4 linked regions of the Homo sapiens genome follow. The protein of the gene in region 3 interacts with the protein of the main gene of each other region in a biochemical or structural test. Each region holds a gene or a part of one and is shown on either strand. Other genes may lie near its edges.

Region 1 (7,033 bases), on a different chromosome or scaffold from region 3:
CTGTGATGTGAGGTAAGCCCAGTAAGAAAGCAGTTACACAGGGACTTTTTTAAAAAAGAGATGGTCTCACTCTCTTGCCCAGGCTGGCGTGCAGTGGCACAGTCACAGTTCTCTGCATCCTTGGTGTCTTGGGCTCAAGGGATACTCACACTGGGAGACTTGTACACCCCAATTTTAATCCTGGCTCCAGCATCAGCTGTGTTGTATGACTTGGTGAAAATTTTCACACAGAAATACATCTTCCACCATTATACATTTCTTCTGGAAGGAACTATACAGGCATGTGGCTAAGCAGACAACCACATCGCTGTTGGGAAAGGACTGGAGAGCTCACAGTAGGAGAGAGGGATGAGGGCAGACACGGGCTCTGGCCTGGAGCCAGGATTATCTGGAGGCAGCTCAGCATGACTGGCTTGTGCTGCCTGGCTTCTCCCAGGGCCCCATCATGCCATAGGAGTTAAGGGTCAAAGCATAGTTAGAAAAAAAGCACAAGCCTTTTCCTGTTAAGGCTGAGAAGGAAGCTGGACGTGAACACTCTGCTTTACTCTTAACCTTAATCATGTAAGTTATCTGACAGGAGGAGGTCAGTGACACCAGGAGTTTTACCTTGTTAACAAACCAAAATGCAGATACCTCTGCCAGATCAGAGGTAGGCAGAAGACCAATTCCAACTTCAAAATGAACATGCATGGTGTCCCAGTCTTCTAGATCTTTATACTTTCGTCTTCCTAAGTGTCAGGGAAGAAAACCAGAGGCACTAAAACTGCCAGGTTGCTGGAGGGAGGGAGTGCTGGGAACCTTGGGCGAAGCCATAGACACAAATCCCAGCGGCAGCCTGTGCAGTGCTCAGGAAGCCATGCATGGTGGGGCTGCTTCCTGCCCAACTATGGCATCTACATGAGATGCTCACTTATTTAAGCTCAACTGGAACTAAGTGGGTGACCCCTTGATTGTGCTACTACCCATTATGTACCCACCCATACCCACCACTCCAAGGCTGAACAGAAAGGGTTGTCTGACACCCAGGTTTTATTGTTTCCACTTTATTGCTCAAGCATGGAACTTGAGGCAAGCCTGGACCTTCAGCAACGTGCAGAGAAGAGGCTGAGGGGATTTTGGGACACAACCTGGCCGAGAGGGGAAACTGACAGGGGAAATACCAGAACAGGGAACAGGGGGTGGTCACCATGACACCAGAAGACATCATCAGCCACACCGTCGGGGGTGAGGAAGGGAACAGAGAGAAGAAATGGCATAGCAGTGGTTTTTCCCATGTCCCTAGCACCCACATGGAGGCCACATTTGGAAATGGACTGGGAGAGGGAAAGGATGAGGAAAACGGCTGCCCAGGAGTCTCCCTCTCCACCCTGGGTTCTTATCAGACCTCATCCCTACCACTTGCCTCTTCTACCCTTAGAAAATGGACCTAACAGAGGGAGCAAAATAAATTAACATTCTGATGAATATATATGGATGGACATATGTTCATGTGCAATGGAGGAAGGGAAGAGGGGCTGACACCAGCTAAAATGATTCCCCACCTCAATCCCCCAGCCTACACCTTTCCCCCTTCCCCTAAAGCCACCATCCAACCAGATAGAAAAATAAAGGTCTAATTCACTCAAAATTCTTCAGTTTTTACAAAACTAACAGGGTGGAGTGGGGAGACTGGGGGGCAGGCAGCCGCAGGAGTAGGGCTGGTGGAGAGGGGCTATGCTTCTGTCTCCACCTGAGACTGGCTCCCTGCCGTGTTGCTCTTCTGCTCCTCCTTCATCTCTGTGTCAGTGGGATGGTCTCCTGAGGAAGCCTCTGCCTTGGCCTGCAAGGAAGATGAACAGCAAACGGGCTGACTTCCCAAGTGAAAAAACACACACTTAATTTCCAGCAGAATTACACAGATACACCCATTCTCCTACATCTGTCCTAAAGCTATACCTGTATAGGCCAAGCCTGGTGGCTTATGCCTGTAATCCCAGCACTTTGGGAGGCTGAGGTGGTCAGATTGCTTGAGCCCAGAAGTTTGAGATCAGCCTGGGCAACATGGTGAAACCTCATCTCAACAAAAATTACAAAAATTACCTGGGCGTGGTGGCATGCACCTGTAGTCCCAGCTACTCGGGAGGCTGAGACAAGAGGATCACTTGAGCCCTGGAGGCAGAGGTTACAGTGAACTGAGACTGTGCCACTGCACTCCAGCCTGGGCGGCAGGGCAAGAGACACTGTCTCAAACAAAACAAAACAGAACACTTGTATATGTACAAATTATGAACTCATGAGGTTATTCACTGCAATGCTGTTCTAAGCAGCACTGTCCCGTATGGTAGCCACTACTGTAAGTGGCTAGTTCAAACTCGTGTTTTTAGTGCAAAATATACATTGGATTTTGAAGATGGTTTGAAAAATACACAAATGCAACTAAAATTTAATTCCATTTGTTTTTCACCTTTTTAACATGGTTACCAGAAAATTTTGAATTACATGTGGTTGATACTGTATTTCTACTGGACAGTGCTGGTTTAGAACACTGTTTAAGACTGGCTGGGTGTGGTGGCTCACACCTGTAATCCCACCACTTTGGGAGGCAGGGGTGGGCAGATCACTAAAGTCAGGAGTTCGAGAGCCTGGTCAACATGATGAAACTTCGTCTGTACTAAAAATACAAAAATTAGCCGGGTGTGGTGGCGGGCGCCTGTAATCCCAGCTACTCGGGAGGCCGAGGCAGGAGAATCGCTTGAACCCAGGAGGTGGAGTTTGCAGTGAGCCAAGATCATGCCATTGCACTCCAGCCTGGGCAACAAGAACGAAACTCTGTCTCAGAAAAAGAAAAAAAATAAAACCACTGGAAGACTAAAAAGGGACTGATTGACTAAGACAAGCCATATCCATACAATGGAATACAATGTAAGCCTAAGAAAGAATGTAAAAGTTCTTTAAATACGGATGTAAAATAAGCCTCCAGCTACTATTACGTGAAAAAAGCATAGTATGCGCCAAATCATAGGTGGAGCACGTTGCCTGTGTTAGGGGAAAGGGAGGAAGCAACAGGAACGTCTGCCTGTGCCTTGACGCAATACACTGGACCATCCAAGACCCTGAAGGGGCAGCTGCTTCTGGTGGGGGAGGCAGACTTGACTGTATACTTTGGTACAGTTTGAATTTAACTAAGTGTATTATTTATTTAATCACACACAAAAAGCATCTCGCTTTTCTTTTTTTGAGATGGGGTTTCATTTTGTCACTCAGGCTGGGGTGCAGTGGTGCCATCCTAAGTCACTGAGGTCTCTACCTACTGGGTTCAAGTGATCCTCCCACTTTGGCTCTGCAAAGTGCTGGGATTGCAGGTGTGAGCCACGGCGCCTGGCCCACAAGAAAACATAAATCGGGAATTACACTCAGGGCAACCAACCCAACTTCTGGGGCTTGTGGGTAGGTTTCCCGCACTGATCACAGAACACTGGCCCCAACAGCAGGAACACGTGCTCCTTAATGCTCCAGGGAAAAGGCAACTTCTGGTTTCCGGGATTGGCACAGACAACCAAAGGCACAAAGAGCCCACAGTAGCCAGGTTAAGTGGAGGGATGCTATTCCAACTGTTCCCCACCCCAATCCTCACCTTGTTCTCCTCCTCAGCCAGCCTCTCAAACATATTGGCATAGAGCTTCTTCTCCCGGGCAAGCTGCCTTCGGATCCGCTGCTGGCACACAGCCAGCTGGGTCTTGGCGGCTTTGTTGTTGGGGTAGAGCTGCAGGACCTTCTGGAAATCAGCCCGTGCCAGTTCAAAGTCATTCACGGCCAGGTGGGCCTCTCCCCGGCGGAAGAGGCCCTTCTCGTTGTTGCTGTCCAGTTCTAGGGCCTAAAGAATGCAGAGAGGAAGCCACATTGTGGGAGCTCAGGGCTTGTAGCTCATCTGGCCTAGACTGGGTTCCAAAGGTACCCCTCAGGAGGATGAGGAGGAATGCAAGTGGCTGGCTGCACCCCAGGAAGAACAAGGCCTGAGGCATTAAATGGAACAATCCAGGGACCTCATTTAATCCAACAGGCAGAGAGGGAAGACAGCAGGTCTTTGGATGAAATAAAGACTTCAGACATTAACATTCACTTTAGAATAAAGCAAGTAGGTAAGCGGAGAGGCTAAGAACCAAGGTGGAAGAAAACTCTTTATGTGATTCTTCCCATTCCGTGTCCTCCTCCTTCTTGCCAACTGCTTCCCACCAAAGCTAAGGTTCTTGCTATGAATACTTGCATCCGTGCCTTTGGTCTGTAACCTCAGAGCTCCCACTGATCCACCCTGCTATCCCTGCCCTAGTCACCAAGGGGAAGTTTCAGACATGCTGGCAGCTCACCCAACTCTGCCTGTGAATGCTGCTTCCATGACCTCTGAGGGGGCCTCACCTTGTTACAGCTTTCAATGGCAGCAGAGAAGGCCTGTAGTTTCAGATGACACATGGCCAGGTTGAGGTGAGAGGCCAGTCGAAGGGCCTGTGCTTTCTGTGCTTCCTCATTGGAAAAACTAGACTCATATTCCAGCCAAGACACGATCTTCTTATACTGTAGTAAAGCTTGCTTGTATTTACCTTCCTGGAATGGGAGAGAGGCTCAGGCACCTGGCACAGTTTCAGTGGTACTAGGCTCTTATACCCTGCAGACATCAGTGACACATGGCCACAAGAGGTTCCTGCTCCCACCCTTCCCACTGGCAAGGCCAGCAAGCTCACATATATGAAGTGAAGATGGCAGGTGCCAACCTGTCCACTTCTTGGCAGAAAATGATCTCAGTCACCAAGGGAAGGGGAGGCTCAGAGCAACTCTTCCTGGGAGTGTCCTTAGGACAATGACTGTTGGCTCACCTTGAAGTACACAGTGCCCCGCTCTTTCACTATGGTGCTCTGTTCCAGCTTCTCTTCTGAATTCATCTCCCAAGACTCCTTGGCCTGCCACACCCCAGGAGAGAAACAAAGTTGTCAGCTACCCCAGAGTCACGTACAGGGTGGAACTTGACTTTAGATGGGAAGACCCTGAGCAAACTTACCTTTTCAAAACTCTTGAGGTGTAATTCATATTTCAGCTCAGCATTTGGTGGGATTTGGAACTTTTCCTTCCCAACACTGCCAAAAGCATAGCTGGAGGGGTGAAAAACACTATGTATCATCTTGGCAACACTTAACCTGCTCCAGGCTGAAAAGGCTTCCTGTCCATTTCCTGGAAAGTACCTTCCCATCCCTTGAGACTTGGTTCAAATGTTTGGCAAATCTTCCCTGGCCTCTTCACACTGTCAGATGGTCCCTCAGCATCCTTCATACCCTTCTAATAACTTACAGCCAGGCAGCAGTGTGATTACTAATTTAAATAGCACCTCACTAAACAATGAGCTAGAATTAGAAGGCAGAAACAATGTTCTATTAGTCTCTGAAGCCCTATAGGAATTTTCAGCAGTGCCTGGCATGTAGTAGCTGTTTCAGTAATGACTGAAATGAATTAATGGGAGAGGAAAATCTTGATGGCAGAGGAGAGAATCTGTAGCAACTATGACTGAAAAGACTGGGCTTAGATCCAAGGAGATGTAGACAATTGGGCCATACTTCTAAGTACACTGAGGATATCATAATGGTGTATGTTTGGTGTGGCCAGAGTTAAAAAGGATACAAACAGCTGGTTCTACAATTCATTTTATATCTTTGATCTTGGTTTGCCTGCCTGCCTACCCTACGAAGTGCCCACCCCTCACCTGGGCTTGAGGTACACGATGGAATGTTCTCCTTTCTCCATGCGCTGAATGGCCCTCTCCAGACCATAAGGCAGATCCAGGTTCTCCCCCTCGCCAATCTCAAAGCGGAGCTCCCGCTGGTCAAAGAGCTTGTCCTTGTAGTACCCTTCCAGTGCAACTGGCATGAAAGAGAGGCAGTGTACCAGAGTTGTAAGAGGGCAGGTGACTGAGGAAGGATGCCATCAGCCTCCCTGCATCACCCCCATCATCCCAAGATTCTCCTGTGTTCTCAAATCTGGAGTGATATGAAGAGAATATGGTCCAACCCCTCATTTTATGGACAAGAAGATAGGCTCGGAGAACGGAAGTGTCTTGCCCAAAGCCACACAAGGCCTAAATATCAGAATGAGAATTGAAAGCCCAGACTGTACTGTCTCACCCTCCACGATAGCACCCTCATTGGGCTTAGCATAGCCTTCACCGCGAGTCTGTATTCTGCGAATGATTCCGCCATCTTCCTCTTCCGTCAGATCTTCTCCCTTAAACTCAAACAACTCCACCTGTGGGACAAGATGTGACACAATTCCTTCCCATGCTAACTCATGGGCAGTGAAACACAATCTTTCTCATCCGAGAGAGTCCCTACTAACTGCCAGGCCGGATCTGACCACAAGGGCAGTCACAAGGAGTTGGGTAGAGTGGCACTTTTTTTCAGTTCTTGGGAGCTGCCCTAATCTCAACTTTGGTAGAGGTGGGCAGACTACATAGATTTCAGTTAAGCTGAGGAGAGCAATCTATTTGCTACCTGCTCTACTAACACGGACATATCAGGACGCGTCCCAGATAATCCTAATTCACACTACCTGATAAGCCCAACCTGGTAGGTATTAGAAATGATTACCCAACATCTCTCAGCAGTTTCTCAGTATTCAAGGGCCCACGGATTGGCTCAACCATTTTCAGATTGAACAATGTCAAGTTCTATCTCCTCAGTGAAGCCTTTTCTCAGCCCTTGACCCACAGGGGAGCTACTGCTCCCTCTTCTGGTCTCTAGAGCACCAATATTCTGTACTGCCATTTATAACGGGACATAGTTTCTGACATCCCGACTCCTTTCAGTATTCTTCTGGGTACCGCTCTGGAGATAAAGATGCCTTAACCCTGACCATGCTTTGAGTCTGGAGAGGGGCTTGTGCCTGCCTCTTCCCACCCGAAGCTTCTATTACTTCCATTACTAGCAGCAGCAGAGCCCTCTGCATTTCTCCTCCCATAAGGCCAGACCCTCAGCCTTGGCTACATTGTCTCCAAGAAGCAGGAAGGGCTGGAGGG
Region 2 (6,725 bases), on a different chromosome or scaffold from region 3:
CCGAGTCTGAGGAGAGAAGCTCTGACCCCAGTGGTCACCTTGAACTTGGCTTCCACTTTGTGGGCAACTTGATGGATGGGCTCAAGTTTATGGAAGATGGTAAATGACAAGCCTGGTGCAGATGCTCAGCACTCCCTGGCTTCATCTTGTCTGGCTGTGTCTGGCCTGTTAAGCCCACCCAGACCCCATGCCCTCTCCTTTCCGGGTTCCCATGGTCCCTGTGCCTCTGTCTTCCCTGCCAGGCTTTGGCTGCTCGAGTGCAGATTCCATGTCTGCCTTGTTCCCTGCTGTGTCCCCAGCACTTAGCCCAGCGTCTGCACAGAGTAGGTGCTCAGATAAATATGTGCTAACGGAATGAATGTCAGACGAACTTGAGAACTTTCCTCCTCCTCCCTGGACCTCCTCCCCAGACCTCCTCCCCGACCTCCCTCTGGCCTCTCCCACCCTTCAGCCACCTCCCCAGCCCCTGGCCAGGCACCAGCTGGACTCAAGAAGGAGGAAGGACGTGACTGGAGGCAAACACTTTATTATCCTGAAGTTCAGTTACAATGTGACAGTGGAGGGGACACTGGTGAGTGGGGGGTGAAGAGGTGGAGGGTGACAGTGGAGCTTCCTTTCACACACAGGCCTGACATGATTCCTCCTGTCTGCTCCCTCCCACATCCCCAGTCCCCGTCCAGCAAGGCAAATGTCCAGGCACCTGCCTGGCCCTAAAAAGAGTCACAGTCCTGACCCTCGTGGGGGCAGGGCAGGTGTCCCGAGGCCACCCAGAAAAACAGGAGACGCGTCGGTGATGTTCGGGAGTCAAACCATGTCCCAAAAGTCTTAAGAAGAAAAACGAGATTCCCCAGCAAATTCGTGGGACCCCAGGGCCATGCCTCCCAGCTCTGGCCACCTCTGCTTGTCCAGGGGCCTCACAGCCAAGGGGATGCAGGGGCCGCTGTGCAGTCGGCTGAGGCCAGAGTGAGGGGTGCAAGGACCCAGATGGGGAACACTGCTGTTTAAATATTAAACAGGGATTTCTTGTCTCCCACGTGGGAGACCTGATACTCTCAAGGGTCCCAGGTGGGGACCCTCAGGACCAGGGGCTCACAGCGGCTCATCCCAGTGCCCATTGCAGAGCCAGGGCTGGGGAGCAGTCATAGTAATAAATACTTGGTATTTACCTATCTACCTCCCAGTCCAGGGGATGGGAGGACAGGAGCTTTTTCTCACTGCTACAGGCAGGAGAATGAAACTCAGAAATGCAGGGAAGGACACAGAGGCCTGGGGCTCCGTTCTGCTCTTCCCTGTCTTTAAATATGAGGCTTAAATAGACATAAATATTAAATAGAGATAAATACATGGGATGGGGAGGGCTTGGCTCAGGGCTGGGCAAGGTGGCGTAGAACGCGGTACGACACCTCCAGGAAGCTCTGCAGATGGGAGGCAACCAGGACCCCTCCTGCCCGGCGCTGGAAAGCAGAGGCGAAGGCCGGCATGGCACCCTGGGTGGGCTGCAGGGCAGGGGCCATTCCCAGTTCTTCCATCTGTGGGGGAAAGCTGTGATCAGTGGTTGGGCCCTTCTGAGTGGGCGTTATTACAAATGAGGAAATGCTGGGGGTGACAGCATGGACAGGGCCCATACACAGGCCTGGCTGTGGTGCCCAGAATGCCAGCACGACCTTGGCCACCCTGCCCAACAAGGCTCACCTGCTGCCAGATGGTGGTGGCAAAGTCGGCGACGTCCAGCTGCAGTGTGTCCAAGGTGGGACCCAACTCGGGGGAGATCCCTTCCAGGGCCTGCAGGAGCCCCTGGTAGAGGAAAAGGCCGCTATGGAGTTGGCTCAAGCAGCCTGCCTGTGAGACAGAGCGGAAGAGTTAGGGGGTGCTGCCTGAGATACGTCAGGCCCCCAGCTTGGAACCTGGAGACATGGGGGAGCCCATGGGTGTTCCTCCTCTCCTTCCCCCTCCTCATTAGCCTTATCCTTTCCTGACACTCACCAGCTGCAGGGCCTGGCTGGGGCAGCTGCTCAGGGGAGCCCAGGGGATGCCCAGAGAGTGTCCGAGCAGCACCAGCTCCTCGGGGTGGCACAGCTTGTAGGTGGCACACTGGGGATGGAAGGATGCTGAGTGAGACTCGCCATGGCCGGGTCGCCGCTCCTTCCCGGGTCCTCCCCGACTCTCTGGTCTTTCCCCTCCCTCCATGTCCTGCCAGGCTGTTCAGTTCCTCTCTGCCCTGCACCCCCACTCTCTGATCTCACAGGGGCCCTTGCCCTTTCTCCTGAATGTAATGCCTCCACTCCCATCCCAGCCAGCCCTCCCGAGCACTGTCCCCACCAAGGTCCTCCTCCCCAAGTCCCTTCCCAGCCTTCCCCAGCTCCACTGCTCCTAATATTCTCCCACGTCCCTTCCAGAGGATGTTGGCCCTGCAGTTCCATCCCCCTTAGCTCTCCCCACCGGGCTTCCCTCCACAGCCCTCTCACCCACCTCACTCACCAGCTTCTCCTGGAGCGCTGCGCCATCGCCCTGGATCTTCCTCACTTGCTCTAAGCACTTGAGCAGGAAGCTCTGGGGCAGGGAGCTGGCAGGGCCCAGGGGGGTGGCTTCCTGCACTGTCCAGAGTGCACTGTGCCACAGCAGCAGCTGCAGGGCTGGGGACAGAGCGGGCTCAGGAGACATGCTGTTCCCTACCACCTGAGGCCCTCTCGGGGACACTGGGTGCCTTTAATCCCCATTCCCAGAACGGGGATCCCCAGCCCCTCTGTCACACCAGCCTCCCTCCCATGCCAGGGCAGGCGGCTCTCCCATCCTGGGCCAAGACACTCACCCATCAGCTTCATGGGGCTCTGGGTGGCAGGTCCAGCCATGGGTCTGGGTGGGGCTGGGCTGCAGGCTCCGGGCTGTTTTGGGGCCCAGCTCTAGGGGGGCCTTTATACATAACCCCATGGAGGCCTGGGAGGAAATTACCTGGGGCCACGACTAAGGCTTAGTAATAACTTCCCAGGATTTATGCAAATTTGGTGTCCAAGACAATGCAGGGGGGTTGGAACAAAAAGCTGTTTGCGAAAGTTTTGTGAAATTGTGGAATCTCTGATCCTCCTTTGACGTCGCCTTGCCCCCCTCAAACTCCCTTCCTCCCGCTGCCCCACCCAGGCCTGAATGGCCCCAGAGTGTTTGAACAGAACAGCTGAACAAAGGCTGAGCCGCTGATAGACGCCTGGAAGCGGCAGCAGCCTGTGGGGAAGTGGCAGCTGAGTCGGGGTCTCCCTCTCTGCTCTGGCAGACTTGCGGGGGCAGTGTCCTTTGCCCCTCTCCTTTGGGATTCTCAAGCCTGTCCCCCAAGCCCCCAAATTCTAAGAGAGAAAAAAAGAAGCTGGTTGCTCCCATTCCTACCCCCAAACTCTCCGGAGGCTGCCTGTCTGGGAGACCTCCTGAGCCCCTACCTGAGATAAGGACATTGGGTCTTGGCTGCTGTGCCCACCCCACACTTGGATAGGCACCATCGAAAGTTCCAGGCTGTCCTGTCCCAAGTTGATTAGCTGGGAACTCCCCCAGAAACCCCCCCGCCCCCCATGACTCATTCGGCTAAAGCCCCTAGAATCCCGGTAGAGCCAGAGGAAACCGGATGTCTGTCCCGAATGAGGCAAGACCCTTCGAGGCGATTGGCTCACCTGACCTTCACCTCCTCGTGCACGACCCTGACAGTAGGGTCCCCAAGGGCTTTGGAACTGCGGGATTGGGACACGTGACTTCCCTGGTCATTCACCTTGAAGTGGACACGGGCTGGGGTGAGAGAGGGGAAACTGCCCCATCTTCTCATCTTAGAACCATGCAGCGTTAATGCTGGAAGGGACCTTGGAGTCGATTCCAACCCCGTGAACTGGGCCAGGGAAGGAAGTGCCTTGCCCAAGGTCATGGTAAGTGACAGAATTACAGCCTGGGCCTCTGGCTCAGACCTGAACGTTTTCTTTTTCTTTTCCAGATGGAGTCTTGCTCTGTCGCCCAGGCTGGAGTGCAGTGGCGCGATCTCGGCTCACTGCAAACTCTGCCTCTCGGGTTCACGCCATTCTCCTGCCTCAGCCTCCCGAGTAGCTGGAACTACAGGTGCCCGCCACCATGCCCGGCCAATTTTTTGTATTTTTAGTAGAGACGGGGTTTCACCGTGTTAGCCAGGATGGTCACGATCTCCTGACCTCGTGATCCACCCGCCTCGGCCTCCCAAAGTGCTGGGATTACAGGCGTGAGCCACCGTGCCCGGCCTAGGCCTGAACGTTTTCTACAGGCCACAAGGCCTGCCTGGGGCAGTCTGACTGACCACACCCAAGACTGTCACCTTCTGTCCTAATTTACCCCAGCGTGCCAAGAAACAGACATCTCTGGATGAGAAGTGGATGTGGTGACTGGATGGGGCCATCTCTGGTGCTTGGGGGCCCCCTGGTGGTCACCAATGGCAGGGACGTCTGATCTCACACACTGATCTCACACACTGTTATCTGGTCCGCGGTCCTGCAGCTCCGCCTTAGCTCTGTGGCTCAGCACCTTGCACTGATGTGGCCCAGCTCTGTACCCAGCTCCCTGGGAGTAGAGGGTGGGTTTTTGTTGTTGTTTTTTTGAGATGGAGTTTCGCTCATTGCTCAGGCTGGAGTGCAATGGCACGATCTCGGCTCACTACAACCTCCGCCTCCCTGGTTCTAGTGATTTTCCTGCCTCAGCCTCCCAAGTAGGTGGGATTACAGGCATGCACCACCATGCTCATCTAATTTTGTATTTTTAGTAGAGGTGGGATTTCACCATGTTGGTGGTCAGGCTGGTCTCGAACTCCTGACCTCAGGTGATCCACCCGCCTCGGCCTCCCAAAGTGCTGGGATTATAGGCATGAGCCACTGCACCTGGCCTTGAGGGTGGGTTTTTAACAGGACCATGGAAGGCAGGAGCTCCACATTCTTAAACATGTTGCCTGGCAACTATTGCATTGCACACCTCTTATATGTCAGGCACTTTTTTTTTTTTTTTTTAAGACAGAGTTTGGCTCTTGTTGCCCAGGCTGGAGTGGGTGGAGTGCAATGGCACGATCTCGGCTCACTGCAACCGCCGCCTCCTGGGTTCAAGTGATTCTCCTGCCTCAGCCTCCTGAGTAGCTGGGATTACAGGCATGCTCCACCACTGCCCCCACAGCCGGCTAATTTTGTATTTTTAGAAGAGATGGGCTTTCTCCATGTTGGCCAGGCTGGTCTCACACTCCTGACCTTAGGTGACCCGCCCGCCTCGGCTTCCCAAAGTGCTGGGATTACAGGCATGAGCCACTGCGCCTAGCCATATCAGGCACCTCTTATTACACTTTTGTCAATTTTTTTGCGGAGGGGAAACAGGGTCTCAGTCTGTCCCCCAGCCTAGAGGGCTGTGGTACAATCACAGCTCACTGCAGTCTTCACCTCCCAGGCTCAAGCGATCCTCCCACTTTAGCCTCCCGCGTAGCTGGGACCACAGGCACGGACCACCATGCTCCGCCAATTTTTGTAATTTTTTTTTTTTTGCAGAGAGGGCATTTCATCATGTTGCCCAGGCTGATCTCAAACTCCTGGGCTTGTGTCCGAAACTGGTGAGTGCTTGGTCTCACTGACTTCAAGAAGGAAGCCGCGGACCCTCGCAGTGAGTGTTACAGCTCTTAAGGTGGTGCATCTGGAGTTTGTTCCTTCTGATGTTCAGATGTGTTCGCAGTTTCTTCCTTCTGGTGGGTTCGTGGTCTCGCTGGCTGAGGAGTGAAGCTGCAGACCTTCGCGGTGAGTGTTATAGCTCTTAAGGCAGCGCGGCCGGAGTTGTTCATTCCTCCCGGTGGGCTCGTGGTCTTAGTGGCTTCAGGAGTGAAGCTGCAGACCTTCGTGGTGAGTGTTACAGCTCATAAAAGCAGTGTGGACCCAAAAAGCGAGCAGTAGCAAGATTTATCGCAAACAGCAAAAGAACAAAGCTGCCATATTGTGGATGGGGACCTGTGCCCGTTGCCACTGCTGGCTCGGGCAGCCTGCTTTTATTCTCTTATCTGGCCCCACCCACATCCTGCTGATTGGTAGAGCCGAGTGGTCTGTTTTGACAGGGCGCTGATTGGTGCGTTTACAATCCCTGAGCTAGACACAAAGGTTCTCCACGTCCCCACTAGATTAACTAGATACAGAGTGTCGACACAAACATTCTCCAAGGCCCCACCAGAGTAGCTGTCAAGCCTCTGAGCCCAAGCCAAGCCATCGCATCCCCTGTAACTTGCACATATACGCCCAGATGGCCTGAAGTAACTGAAGAATCACAAAAGAAGTGAATATGCCCTGCCCCAACTTAACTGATGACATTCCACCACAAAAGAGGTGTAAATGGCGGGTCCTTGCCTTAATTGATGACATTACCTTGTGAAAGTCCTTTTCCTGGCTCATCCTGGCTCAAAAAGCACCCCCACTGAGCACCTTGCGACCCCCCACTCCTGCCCGCCAGAGAACAAACCCCCTTTGACTGTAATTTTCCTTTACCTACCCAAATCCTATAAAACGGCCCCACCCTTATCTCCCTTCGCTGACTCTCTTTTCGGACTCAGCCCACCTGCACCCAGGTGATAAAAGCTTTATTGCTCACACAAAGCCTGTTTGGTGGTCTCTTCACACGGATGCCCATGAAAGTAGCCAGATACAGACTGTCGATTGGTGCATTCACATACCCTGAGCTAGACACAGGGTGCTGATTGGTGTGTTTACAAACCT
Region 3 (6,549 bases):
GACACTCCTCGATATCAGGTGATTCAGGCACTGGGGGAAAGGCTGGTGAACTGCCTGTGGAAAACCAGTTCCTAAGCTGGAAGAAGCAGAGAGAAAATCGTGACCCTTGATCTGCTCCACCATCTGCCACCAGGGCCTTTTGAGGAGGTCGTCTTCTCATCTTTCTGCCTCAGGCCTACTTTTCAACAACTCCCCAGCAGGAGAGTCTGTGGTCTCCTTTGGGGTCTTGCTGTTCTCCTTGTACCAGCAGCTCCAGAGTTTGTTGTGGGTCTCATTGTAACCTGTACTGATATAGATGGGCGCTCTTGTTAGTGGATTTCAGTCTCATCCTGGGTTCCAGTCTCTTGTTCTTTGAGGGAGGGGCCTCAGAGGTAGGCTAGTGCTGCTGGTGGTGACTTCCTGAGGAATGGGATCTTCCCCTCTCCCTCTACAGAGCTGCACACTGTGATGGAGACTCCTCTGGAGAAGGCCCTGACCACTATGGTGACCACGTTTCACAAATATTCGGGGAGAGAGGGTAGCAAACTGACCCTGAGTAGGAAGGAACTCAAGGAGCTGATCAAGAAAGAGCTGTGTCTTGGGGAGGTAGGTGATTGTTCCCTCATCCTCCACCCCAAAGTCTGAGTACTCCCTCTGGGGGACACATACCTACCCTCAGGATCCTCCAGCCTAAGCCAGGGGCAGGGTGGCCAAGGGCTACAGACAGAGACAAAGGAAGATGGTGGGGATTTCGGGCCAGCAAAACTCTAGCCCTCTGTGAAGGAGAATGGGTCAGGGTCTCACTGAGAAGGAGGAAGGGCTGAGTCTGGAGGGTTTAGAGAAGGAGATTGAGGAGCCTTCGATGGTGGGGCCAGGCTCTCCCAGCAGTGGCAGAACCTGTGCTAGGGGTCATGGGTGGTGAAGGGATGCAGGGTGTCCAGGTCCAGCTGTGTACAACTCAAGTGTAGGGACTCTGCCTGATTCTTCTCTGTGTGCACAGCATGGCCAGGGCTCTCTGATGGTGCTGGCACTCAAACTGAAAGGTTAACTTGTAAACATAGGGTAGTGAGGAGACAGAACTGGTTCTCACCAGATGGAGGTGGTGGGAGGGAGGTGACTGACAGAGGGGAAGGCCCATGAGGTTATTATAATACAATATCCCCGAGGATAAATAAATAAATAAATATATATATATATATATATATATATTTTTTTTTTTTTTTTTTTTTTTTTTTGAGAGAGTCTCGCTCTGTCACCCAGGCTGGAATGCAGTGACATGATCTTGGCTCACTGCAACCTCCGCCTCTCAGGTTCAAGCGATTCTCCTGCCTCAGCCTCTTCAGTAGCTGGGATTACAGGCACGCACCATCACGCCCAGCTAATTTTTGTATTTTTAGTAGAGATGGGGGTTTCACCATGTTGGTCAGGCTGGTCTCGAACACCTGACCTCGTGATCCATCTGCCTCGGACTCCCAAAGTGTTGGGATTACAGGCGTGAGCCACTGCGCCTGGCCAAGGATAAATATTTTTGAGACAGAGTCTCACTCTGTCACCCAGGTTAGAGTGCAGTGGTGCGATCATGGCTCACTGTAGCCTTGAACTTTCAGGCTCAAGTGATCCTCTTACCTCAGCCTCCTGAGAAGCTAGGACTACAAGCAAATACCACCACGCTTAGATAATTTTTAAAATTTTTTGTAGAGATGGGGTCTCACTATTTTACCCAGGCTGTTCTTGAACTCCTGGCCTCAAATGATCCTATCGCCTCAGCCTCCCAAAGTGCTGAAATTACAGGCATGAGCCACTGTGCCTAGTCTTATTATTTTTATAGTTAAAAAAAATCAATGCTCAAATACATCAAATAACTTGCCTAAGGACAATCCGCTAGTGGGAGGCTGAGCTGGAGTTCTGGGCCAGGCCTGTGAATCATCCTCCCTGTTTCCTTTAAAATTTAGCCTGGGTGCCTCTCCATCTATCACACCTTGAGCCCTGGTAGGCCCTCCCAGAAAGAAGGTCCACAGTGTGCCACATGGGCAGGGGACAGAAGCAGGTATGGGCGTCCCCAGGCCTGATCTCTGGCCTTCTGCCAGGCTGCCTGCATCCTGGAGGTTAATGAGGGCAGAGGGAGGGGCCACAGGTCCAGCAGGGATTAATTACAGAAGGAGAGACGCCCAGAGGAGGGCCTGGCAATAACAGGAGCCCAGGCTGGGGACTAGGATCACGTGACAGACAAGCAGTTTCCGCCTTTGTAAGTCCCAATGTCTCCTGTGAAAACCTGTAGCTGACGGCAATGATGAGGAGACATCAGGATCTGCTTGTCTATATTTTCTTCCTGTTCCACCCAAAGGACCCTGACTCCATCGTCCTAATGGAGCCAGGCTGGGACATCAGGGGACTGAACAACAGTGCACAACCAGGCTCCAGGCAGGCCTCTTGCACAGCTCTCCTAGCAGGGGAGGGATGCAGTGGCTTCACAGCCCCAGTGCACTGCTCTCATTGAGAGACATTTTGTCCGGGGTTATTCTCACCTAGTCCTTAGAATGGGGAGAGAGTCACTCAGAGACTTGGATAATGCTCAATGCCACATAATCAGCAAGGTGTTCTTTTTTTTTTTTTGAGAAGGAGTTTCATTCTTGTTGCCCAGGCTGGAGTGCAATGGCATGATCTTACTTACTGCAACCTCCGCTTCTCAAGTTCAAGCGATTCTCCTGCCTCAGCCTTCCAAATAGCTGGGATTACAGGGATGTACCACCATGCCTGGCTAATTTTGTATTTTCAGTAGAGACAGGGTTTCACCATGTTGGTCAGGCTGGTCTCGAACTCCTGATGTCAGGTGATCCACCCGCCTCGGCCTCCCAAAGTGCTAGGATTACAGGTGTGAGCCACCACACCTGACCCAGCAAGCTGTTTTTATCAGGTGTTGGTATAAAACCTAGATGATTGTTTCTTTGGCTGGGGGACAGTATTGCAGGGAAGGCAGGCTAGGCTAGCATTCCTGCTGTCATTTATTTCCATTCAGGAGTCAGGTCCCTGACCCCCTACCTCATGCCAGGCCCTTCCCTAGGTGTGGGCAGTGGGCAGACTCTGGGGGTCGAGATGCTGACAGTGTCATTGACTCAGCTGGGGCTCACCCTGAAGTTTCGGGGTGGGGATGACACCATGCAGTGGTGCGAGGGCAGGGCTGGGAGCGGGGTCTGAGCTGTCTCTCCACCTGGGTCCACAAAAGATGAAGGAGAGCAGCATCGATGACTTGATGAAGAGCCTGGACAAGAACAGCGACCAGGAGATCGACTTCAAGGAGTACTCGGTGTTCCTGACCATGCTGTGCATGGCCTACAACGACTTCTTTCTAGAGGACAACAAGTGACCAGGGCTGCCCTCCACCCTCACCCTCCACCCTTTGCTGCTGACCTCGGCTGCTCCTCTCACAGACCCTCTTTGGCCCCCTGCCCTCCTCTCCCTCCCAGATGGACCCTTCCATGGGAGGAAATAAAGTTTCCATCGCAGGTGCTGGGAGTCTGGTTTTGAAGCTGTCTTGTCTACCTTGGCCTGGGGAGAGGGGAGCACAGGAAGGGTCTCTCCTTGAGTGGGTTGAGACAGCTTCTGCCTCTGGGGGTTAGGGTCCTGGGCTCCCACTGCATTCCTCTCCTTCTTTGGTGTGGACGTCATTGGTTTTGTCATGGCTTAGTTTTGCCTGCCTGGAAAATGGGGAAGTTAGGCCAGGCGGGAACTCTGCAAGGATGCAGAGGAAGTTAAGAGGGAAAGTTGCTTTGAGAGGAGGACACTGGGAGGGGTTGGGAGTGGCTCCTGAGGGCGGTGATAGGCAGGCAGGCCTGACTTGTCCACAGCTCACCGGAGGCCACCTTGGCAGCACCTGTAGGAAGGGCATGTCTGGCCTCCACACCAGCCCCCTCCCTCTTCACCATTTCCCCTTCAATAGCACCACTCTCATCATCTATGGGGGACAGTGCTTTCTTCTCTCCCTGCCTCCTCCATCAAAATCTTTTCTCAGGGGAGGGTCTGAAAAGGCCTTCACTCCCCCGTAAATAACGAATGGTGCTTACAGGGCTGGGCTCCCACGTGCATGCACATTAACACCAAAGGTGCTGTAGTGAATGGAATTTGGGGCACTGAGGGGAAGGAGTGGAGGTGTTGGTAGGAACTTGTTGCTGGTGGGGGATGGGCGCCGTAGATATCCTTTACACCACTGGCTACTCCCCCTATCTCCTCTGGGGTGACCCTGAGTATCCTCTGTGGGACACCGGCATCCTGTGAGGCGCCCTCCTTGCCCACATTGACGCTGCGCTGGCTCGAGGGTCACATTCACGGTCTGGCAGAGGAAGCAGGGGTGACCGCCGCAGTCCTCCTCCTGCTCCCCTTGCCGAGTCACGTGTCACGAAGAGCAAACTGAGCAAACTGAGCTGCGCAGATGAGGGGAGACTCGTCACCAGGCGTGCAGTGGGCACTGCTGGGCTCCCCCATCCCGTCCTAACCCGGAACAGCCCCGGGCAGGAGGCGTGGAAAGTCGAGGGGGTAAACCGCGAATGTGCGTTGTGTAAGCCACGGCGCAGGGTGGGGCGCGGGCGGGACTTGGGCGGGCGGGGTGGGCTTGGCCGAGCTGGCCTCCGGGGCACCGACCGCTATAAGGCCAGTCGGACTGCGACACAGCCCATCCCCTCGACCGCTCGCGTCGCATTTGGCCGCCTCCCTACCGGTGAGTTCTCTCCAGGAGCCCTGGGTACTTTCCAGGGCCAGCTGCCCTCACGCTGGGGGTCCAGCCATCCCCTGCCCAGTTCAGCCGCTGGATCCAGACTGGGGCCATCTGTGGCGCTCCCCCGCTGGAGGGATAGTCAGGAGCAGCAGTGCTGTGCCAGGCAGGCCTTGGGCTAAGGGATCGCAATGGGGTGTGCTCTTTTGGGGTGCGGAAGGGAGTGCCCTGGGTGTGTCATTGCCACCATGTGTGGCCCTGTGAAGCTGTGTTTAAGCTGCCTTTGCAGCCTCCATTCCCCTCCCCTGCCCAGCCATACTCCTCAACTTCTGGATCCCCTGAAGGACAGTTCTCAGCTGTGCCCAAAGCTACTGTTCCTATATGCTTCTTAGAATCCTTAAGCCACCTCTCTTGCCTTGGCCCTAGTGTGCTCTCTCCTTCCCCTTCAAGCCCTGGGCTGTCTCCTGATGCCATTGTGTGTGGCCTGAGACTGGGTGGTTCCAAAGGAGGCGGGGCTAGTGCAGGCAGCATTATTGGGGTGTGTGGGTGAGAAGTCCTTGCTCCCATGGCACTGACTAGGCCCTCTGCTGCCAGCTCCAAGCCCAGCCCTCAGCCATGGCATGCCCCCTGGATCAGGCCATTGGCCTCCTCGTGGCCATCTTCCACAAGTACTCCGGCAGGGAGGGTGACAAGCACACCCTGAGCAAGAAGGAGCTGAAGGAGCTGATCCAGAAGGAGCTCACCATTGGCTCGGTGAGTGGCCTCCTCCCCAGGACCCCTTTTCCCACCCTTGTCCTTTGGAAGCAGGATTAGGGGAGAGAGAGGTGCCAGGTGCATCTGACTCACATTTACCCACATTCTGAGGCCCTGGTCCACATGTAGACCCTGAGCTGTAGACCCACTCTCCCAGCGGGTAGGGGATGCTTCCAGCCGGATATCCATCTCTCCAAATGAGGACCAGTAACTGAGAAGTAGCTGAGGAGAAGCAATGCCAAAGTGACATGGGTCCTTGGTGATGAGGGAGCACAGAGCCACTTGCAGAGAGGATTGCCTGGGAGGGGGAAGGGGAAGAATCCAGGGTTGTCATCACCACTGAGTATGGATTTCACATTCTAACACATTAGAAGCTGCAGGATGCTGAAATTGCAAGGCTGATGGAAGACTTGGACCGGAACAAGGACCAGGAGGTGAACTTCCAGGAGTATGTCACCTTCCTGGGGGCCTTGGCTTTGATCTACAATGAAGCCCTCAAGGGCTGAAAATAAATAGGGAAGATGGAGACACCCTCTGGGGGTCCTCTCTGAGTCAAATCCAGTGGTGGGTAATTGTACAATAAATTTTTTTTGGTCAAATTTACCCTTGCGTCCTGGCTTCCGAATGATTTCTGTTCCTCCTTGGCTTAGTGGGACACCAGCCATTGGAAGATTTGCTCACGGTCAACCTCTGAAAATGACTCATTGACTCGCCAGGCCAGAGGACCCACCCTGACAAGGCTGCCTCTAGCACATAAGGTGCCTTTATGTGAATGAGGAGAGATGCCCCTCTTGGCAACGCCATCCTAAGGAAAGGCTCAAGTGGTTTCCAGTAGAGAGAGTCCTGGGATGAGCTTGGAGATGGAAATGGTCCCTGGGCCGGGATGTGATGGGGTTTGGGGGCCTGGAAGTGAGGCAGAGATAGTCCCAGAGGCTCCCAGATGTGTTTTGCTCTGGGTGTGGCAAGAGGGGCCCTGGGGTGGGGCAAGTCCCCTTTCTCATCACAGCGCAGGGGTTAGATAGGGCACATCTGAGATGCCTGAGGCTTGGCTCAGGGAGTTTCCTACACCAGTGAGGACGCTGTGTGACTGAGTCTACTGCGGCTGCCCAGGT
Region 4 (7,370 bases), on a different chromosome or scaffold from region 3:
AACAGCCTAAATGTCTGTCAGCAGGTAATGGCTAAACTGTCATATCTGTACAATGTATTAATGAAATGATTTATTAATACATACCACAACATGAATGAATTTCAAATGCATTATGTTGAAGAAACAGACCAAAAAAAAAGAGTACCTACTATACGATTCCATTTATATAATTCTTAAAAAGGTTTGGGGTGGGGGAGAGGGTTACATAAGGGGCACAAGGAAAACTTTTGAAGGTCAAAAGTTTGAAGGATATGCGCAGTACCTTGATTGTGATGATCATTTCACAGCTGCATAAATTAACTATTAAAAATCAAATTGTACATATTAAATACTTTAGCTTTACTATAGGTCAATTTTACCTCAATAAAGTTGTTAAAATAAAAGACAAGGAGAGGAGAGATCCTCAAGGTAGTTGGTAGGCTGGTTCAGGGAATTCTAAGATAGGGAGTCAACTGAAATATTTTAAGAGAATGGAGGGACAGATCAGATGTGTACTATAAACAGCCAATCTAGGAGCAATGTGGAAAAAGGACTTCAGGGAGATGGTGAGGGACACCACGGAAACGGAGACTGGCAAGTAGGAAGGGGATAAGGCAATCTGGAAAAGAAGAAACAAGCACAAAGGAGGCAGCAGAGCACTCCCTTGGGGACACTTCAGATACACACCTGACAGACACAGAGCCAGGTGATGGCTGAGCAGGTGGAAAGAAGAGCAAGGCCTAAGAAACGCTTAGATTTCTTGCCAGATAAATGATGGTCCCATTAAGGGCATAATACAGTGGGCAGTTTAACATACAGGTCTGAAGCTCGGGAAAGAAACATGCATGAAAGTTACAGGGCTGGAGTTACTGGATGAATAAGGTCAGTCTGTGAGACAGTACAGAATGACAACTGTGGATAAGTCTCAGTCAGGTGTACAGGAAAAAGATCATGCTAAAGAAACCAAGGAGTGGTCAAAACCAGGTTGTGAAGGAAAAAAACCACAGCGGTATTAAAAGCAGAATGTGAGTAAAGGAAAACAGTTTACTCCTAATAGTTATTTAAACATGTTTTCAAGCTCAAAAGAAAAGCCATCAGAAAAGGAAGGGGTCAAAGATACAGTAAATAATTAAAGACTTGAAAGTATACACAAGACAGAGTGATTATTCTTGGACAGGACAGAGCCTCTTCTTCTAAAGCAGTAAGGAAAGAGGTACAGATAAACATAGACACAGGTAAGCATTTTCACAGGTGAGCAATAGATTGAGGGACAGGAGAGGAGGACATAAAGTTAGGATCTAATGGCTTCTACCTTCCCTGTGGAGGAAGCAACAAGACCATGTGTTCAGAGAGAAGGAAGCAGGGGTGACATAGAAGGCTACTGCACAGCTAGGGTGAAGAAGAGAGCTGCTGGGCCTGCTCAGGACCTAACCAGGTTGGTACCTGCCAATTTGCAACATCAGCAATCCACAGGATTGACTGACTCTTCTCCAAGAGCACATATGTGCAAAGTGGGAAGAGTTAGTTTGCTGGGTTAAATGACCACTGAGATTTCTTCCAGACCACGTATGACCGTTAAGGCAAGGTAATTAGGGGTCCAGACCCATAGGGTCCAGAGCAAAATGCTGCCAAGAGAAGACTGATGCCTGCACAGACATGGAAAGGGCAAAGAACTGAAGATTTTGATGAAATTAGAGATTAGGTATACAGGTCTAAAGAAGTGAGAGGACAGTAGACTGATTTGTCATACAGCAAGAGTTTAAGGCTTTGATGATGGTTCTATTCTTGTTGACAAATTCCAGAATATTTACTCAGGATGGTTGGTGGGACTCCGAAAAAGTTAAATTACCCACTTAAATATAGAGTAGTGGCTGCACTTTTAAAATAATCGCTGTCTTTTTCATTGTCAAAATAATTGAGTGGTCAGATAATTTTGGGAAAAGTTGCATACTATATACCCCGTTTCATAGGGATTAATAACATATTAGCTTACTAAAGGATCTGAGTGAACCTGCACTTAACACATTGACAATGGCACCATTTCTTCAAGAAACTCCTATGACCATTTGTTTCAGATTAAGCATTAGTATCAGAGTTACTGTGGTACCTTAAGATTACCCCCAAATTCAAAAGCTACACGAAAAAAGAATAATTTTGGCTCTCTCTCAATAGTAATGTAATCCTTAACAGTTCAAAATTATCCCTAGCTATATGTTACTATAAACTATTTTTAAGACGGTTTTTAATGAATAAGAAATTAAGTATTAACGAATACAGCCATGTTAAAATCTGGAAACTTCATACCTCTACTTTTTCTTGCTCCTCTAGTGCTAAAAACACAGCTGCTCGGAGTTCAGCCTTAAAAAAAAGTTAAGAAACAGGAAATTATAATTTCAAGACAATTTTCACAACAAGCTCACATTTATCCAGCAACAAACACGAGCAAGCCAACGAGCTGGGAGGGCAGGTGCAAAGGTCAGAAACGCCTTCCGAAACGTTCTCAGTCACACAAGCTCTCCGACCCCCAGGCTTCGGCTGGACGCGCTGCTTTCCCGCCGCGGATCATGCCCGAGCCTGAGGAAGAGACGCTGGGGCCGCACTCCAGGGCCCAGCTGCGGGCCGCCCGTGTGGCCCCCAAGCCCCGCGGTCCCGCCCCCACGGAATGAGGCAGGGGATGGGCCAGGCACCCCCAGTCCGCGGTGCCCTCCGGGACCACACGAACGAACGAGCCGACCCCCTCTGTGGGGCGGGCAGGACGGAGGCCATGCCGGGGCGCGCCCCCAGTGCCCGCCGGCCCCGGTCCCTCGCCAGGGAGGCGGCCTCCTCGCCGCGACCGTTGTGACGCCCGCTGTCCACGCAAGCCCTGCGGATCCGCCAGGCCCGGCCCCAGCCTCCGGCCTCACCTTGATGCGGTTCAGGACCCCGCTGTTCTCCAGCGTCTGCACCAGCAGGTCCCGCAGCTCCGTGTCCTCCTCGGCCACCACTGCGGCCGCCGTCGCCGCCATCTTGCTTCTCCAAGACAACCGCCGAAGCCGCGCTAACGGCCAACGGCCGCAGCAGGGTACGCTCCGCGCGCGGGCTACGCGGCCGACGCAGCCAAAGCCCCGCCCCGACGCGCAGCGCGCTGGCCCTGCCCCCTGGCGTCGGGAGGCGGGGCATAGAGACCTCGGGGTTGACGCTGGACACCGAGCCTTGGGGAGCGCCGGACCACTGAGCGCCGAAACTTAGGGTCGGCGCTGGGGGCGGGGCTGCGGGGCGCGGGTGGGCACGCAAGGGGCGGGGCGTCGGCGGGGCCTCCAGCCGGCAACCCGTTGGCTGCCGTCGCCTGAGGCGCGAGCTTTGAAGCCGGCGAGCGGTGAGGAGGAGGCGCCCTCGCGTGTGGAGAGCGGACTCCGCCTGGACTCCACCGCCCACGGCCGCATCCCATCGCCGCACAAGATCGCCGGAGTCATATTATCGACGTAGTTAAAGCCCACTAGCCTAAAGCCGGGCGGACTGCGGTAAGGAGGCCCCGAGACCGAACCTGCAGCCCCTGCAGCCCCGGGGGGGCGCCGGGGAAGGGACTCCCGAGAGGTCGCGAGGGGCGGAAGGCCCTGCAGGTTGTCACCCGGAAATAACGTTCTGAGGCCCCCCAGCCAGGCGAACGCACCCTGCTCGGCCACGGCCTCCGAGGCTAACCGGAAAGGTGCCAGGCCGAGGTGCAGGGGCGGGATGGCCCCAGGAAGAGCCGAGGGCCGAGGAGGGCGTTGGGTGGGCTCCGCGCTGCCCGAACTGGGGCCGCAGTCTCCACTCCCTCCTGCCCCGCGGCCCTCCGCCGACAGCCAGGCGCCGGCGGGGAGTCCTGGACCCCTCCCGGGCCCTGGAAGCCCCGTCCCGCCGGAGCTGACGCGCCCTCTTGGTATCCATCCGGCCGCCTGGGCTGCCCCTCGCCCCTCGCCTTGGCAAAACCAGCCCCCGGACCGAGCCCTGCCTTGGAGAGTGTGGGTGCGCAAGGCCAGCCGAGCTGTCGGTTCCGGGGTTTCGGGGTGCGCCACTGTATGGCGGCGTAAGCCGAGAAGTGTCCGAGGCCGGGCTCCAGCAGTTGAGAGGCTGATTTGGCCACGGTGAAGGACGCGCCCGGAGGAAGGAAACGGGAATCCGAAACGGGCGGTGGCCGCGCCTTTCCCGAGGCCGGCGTCGAGGGCTTCAGCGCCTCAGGGTGGGCGGGAGGGGAAGGTCGTGCGACCCGCGTGGCCGGCGGAAAGGAGCAGCGGGAGCCGCGGCCGTAGGGAAGCCACGGGAAGACGGGCGGCTGCGCTGCGATGCGCGGCCCTCTCCCTGAAGCCCTCGGCTCAGGCGCCACAGGAAAGGCTCCTTCGGGCAGGCCTCAGCTTTCAGCTTAAGTTTTTTTCCTTTGGCCGAGTCAACTGCGGTGCCGAGTTGTATTTTCCTTTCAGAGGTGTGTCCGAGAACCATTCTTAGGAGACGCCTGCCGGCCGCTTTGGGATAGGGCCTGTCTGCCCATGCTGGCTTCCAAAGGCCTCTGTGTGTTCCTGTATGTGGGCGTGCACGTACCTGTCACATGTGTACGCGCAGACCACAGGATGTCCACACTGGCTTCCAAACACATCTCTGTGTTTCTGTCTGTGAGTGTGTACGCAGGTGTCAAATGTGTACGCACAGATCACAGGGTGTCCACACTGGCTTCCAAACACGTCTCTGGGTTCCTTTATGTGCGTGTGTATGCACTTGTCATGTGTACACACAGATCACAGGGCATCCACACTGGCTTCCAAACATGTCTCTGTGTTTCTGTCTGTGGGTATGTACACACATATCACATGTGGAAGAGGTAGGAAGAGGCTGGAACAGGTAAGGGTCATGAAGGTGCAGTGCACTATTGTACTGTTTGCGCTTTATATGTGTTTGGTTAGTTTTGCAAGAACATGCTGGTGAAGGAGAGAGAACCCCAAACAATTGATTAGCAGTGCTACTGAAACTCAGATATACACAGGAATGGCAAAGAAACATCTATGAAAAAAAGCAGATTCTGGAACTCCATCTCCCTGAGATTGTCACTCATGGGGTCTGCAGGAAGTTTCAGGAATCTGCATTTTCTTCTAATAAACGTGGTCCACAGGTTATAAGTTGAGATACAAATAGAATATATAAAGTAAAAAAGGAAAATTTGAAGTTTCCTGCCTAGCCCAACTCTTCTCATTGGTAGTGTCTGTTAAATTGGAAACATATCTCTTTCCAGACATATTAATACCTTTTATACAGTTGACTCTTGAACAACATTAGTTTGAACTGCGTGAGTACACTTATATGTGGATTTTTTTCAGTAAATGGAATATTTTTGGCGATGGCAACAATTTTGTGAAAAACCTCACAGATGAGTCGCTTAGCCAAGAAATATGGAAAAAAAAAGAAAAGAAAAAGCTAGATATGTCATGAATGCATAAAATATATGTAGATACTAGGCCATTTTATTATTTACTATCATAAAATATATACAAGCCTGTTATAAAAAGTTAAAATTTATCAAAACTTACACGTACAAACAGACAGTTACATGGCACCCATTAGGTTCAAGAGAGGTGTAAACAGTTGTAAAGATGCAATATTAAATAATAACTGCATCAAATTCACTGTAGTACATAGAGTACTACTGTAATGATTTTGTAGCCACCTCCTGTTGCTATTGCAGTGAGCGTCAGTGTTGCTGGTATTGGCTAAAAATTCCAAGTAACATAATCATCTCTGAGTGAGCAGTTGATCTCTCCAGTACATTGCATATCACAGTAAAAGGTAAGCTCTTGAGGTTCTCACATATTTCTCGTTGTGTTCACTGCAGTACTGTAAACCTTGCGTAACACCATGGGACCATTACGAAGTGCCGCTAGTGGTGCTGGAAATGCTCCCAAGAATCAGAGAAAAGTTAATGACATTACAGAAAAAGCGGAATTGCTTGCTGTGTATTGTAGATTGAGGTCTGCAGCTAAGGTCGCCTGCCATTTTAAGATAAATGAATCCAGTATAAGGACTGTGGTATAAAAACAAAAGGAAGTTTATGAAGCCATCGCTGCAGCTACACCAACAAGCATGAAAACCTTGCACTTTTTGGGAAATACCTTTTTATCTCATATTGCAAATGCAGCTTTTTGTGGGTGCAGGATTGCTATGAGAAAGGCATACCTATATAATCTAATATTCAAGAAAAAGTGAAGTCATTATCTGACAAAGCAAAAGGAAGATGAAGGAAGGTATGATAATTTTAAAAAGTGGGTTGGCTTTCAAAAAATGTCAAGATAACAGGAGAAGCAGCTTCTGCTGACCCAGATGCAGCCGACGAGTTCCCAGATACCATTAAGGAAATTATTGAGGACAAAAGGCCAGGCTTTGTGGCTCATGCCTGTAATCCCAGCACTTTGGAAGGCTGAGGTGGGTGGATTGCTTGAAGCCAGGAGTTCGAGACCAGCCTGGCCAACATGGCAAAACCCTGTCTCTTCTAAAAATACAAAATTTAGCCAGGTGTGGTGGTGCACATCTATAATCCCAGCTACTGAGGAGGCTAAGGCATGAGAATCGCTTGAACCCAGGAGGCAGAGGTTACAGTGAGATTGCACCACTGCACTCCAGCCTGGGAGACAGAATGAGACTCTCTCAAAAAAAAATAAATAAAAAATAAAAATAAAAAAAAATAGAGAAAATCACTGAGGAGAAAAGATATCTGCCTGAACAGGTTTTTAAGGCAAACGAAAATGCCCTATTCTGGGGGAAAATAGTGCCACAGAGGATATTTATTAGGAAGAGAAGTGAACATCAGGATCCAAGGCGGGAAGGGATGGGCTAACTGTACTGTTTTGTGCAAATGCAGCCAGATGTATGATCAGGACTGCCCTTATCTATAAAATTGAGCCTTGAAGGGAAAAGAAACACTGCCTGCCACTCTTTTGGTTGTACAGCAAGATGGCTGAGCAGCAACTCTTTTTCTGGATCAGTTATATAAATGCTTTGTTTTTAAAGTCGGGAAGTACCTTGCCAGTAAGGGATTGCCTTTAATGTTCTTTTGATATTGGACAATGCCCCTGGCCACCCAGAACCCCATGAGTTCAATACAAACACATTGAAATGGTCTACATGCGCCTAAACACAACACCTCTAATTCAACCTCTAGATAAGGGAGTCATAAGGACTTTAAGGATCATTACACACAGTACTCTGTGGAAGAGAACCCCAATTGAGAGAATATCATGAACGTCTGAAAGGATTACACCATTGAAGATGCCATTGTTGTTTCAGAAAAAACCATGAAAAGCCATCAAGCCCAAACAAATTCCTGCTGGAGGAACTCCAGATGTTGTGCATCACTTCACAGGATTTATGACAGAGCCAATCAAGGAAATCAT

What was found.
Region 1: the proteins of S100A6 (region 3) and FKBP4 form a complex in vitro, tested with the Homo sapiens proteins (one study listed by BioGRID and IntAct).
Region 2: the proteins of S100A6 (region 3) and CSF3 form a complex in vitro, tested with the Homo sapiens proteins (one study listed by BioGRID).
Region 4: the proteins of S100A6 (region 3) and CEP43 form a complex in vitro, tested with the Homo sapiens proteins (2 studies listed by BioGRID and IntAct, with this or other methods).

Annotation. Positions count from the first base shown.
Region 1 is NC_000012.12:2,797,937-2,804,969, reverse strand, and holds part of FKBP4 (peptidyl-prolyl cis-trans isomerase FKBP4), read right to left. Parts: intron 6,265-7,033; coding exon 6,144-6,264; intron 5,883-6,143; coding exon 5,726-5,882; intron 5,121-5,725; coding exon 5,030-5,120; intron 4,932-5,029; coding exon 4,848-4,931; intron 4,579-4,847; coding exon 4,393-4,578; intron 3,854-4,392; coding exon 3,614-3,853; intron 1,820-3,613; coding exon 1,712-1,819; 3' UTR 1-1,711. UniProt on the Homo sapiens protein: Immunophilin protein with PPIase and co-chaperone activities. Component of steroid receptors heterocomplexes through interaction with heat-shock protein 90 (HSP90).
Region 2 is NC_000017.11:40,011,599-40,018,323, reverse strand, and holds CSF3 (granulocyte colony-stimulating factor isoform b precursor), read right to left. Parts: upstream 2,885-6,725; 5' UTR 2,850-2,884; coding exon 2,810-2,849; exon of another isoform or gene 2,634-2,809; coding exon 2,479-2,633; coding exon of another isoform or gene 2,470-2,478; intron 2,092-2,469; coding exon 1,984-2,091; intron 1,840-1,983; coding exon 1,693-1,839; intron 1,530-1,692; coding exon 1,365-1,529; 3' UTR 511-1,364; downstream 1-510. UniProt on the Homo sapiens protein: Granulocyte/macrophage colony-stimulating factors are cytokines that act in hematopoiesis by controlling the production, differentiation, and function of 2 related white cell populations of the blood, the granulocytes and the monocytes-macrophages.
Region 3 is NC_000001.11:153,534,090-153,540,638, reverse strand, and holds S100A6 (protein S100-A6), read left to right. Parts: upstream 1-4,647; 5' UTR 4,648-4,690; exon of another isoform or gene 4,691-5,278; 5' UTR 5,279-5,299; coding exon 5,300-5,437; exon of another isoform or gene 5,438-5,735; intron 5,736-5,808; coding exon 5,809-5,943; 3' UTR 5,944-6,040; downstream 6,041-6,549. Other genes in the region: S100A5 (protein S100-A5), read left to right, coding at 434-585, 3,203-3,343. UniProt on the Homo sapiens protein: May function as calcium sensor and modulator, contributing to cellular calcium signaling.
Region 4 is NC_000006.12:166,995,027-167,002,396, reverse strand, and holds the start of CEP43 (centrosomal protein 43), read right to left. Parts: upstream 3,001-7,370; 5' UTR 2,985-3,000; coding exon 2,883-2,984; intron 2,338-2,882; coding exon 2,284-2,337; intron 1-2,283. UniProt on the Homo sapiens protein: Required for anchoring microtubules to the centrosomes. Required for ciliation.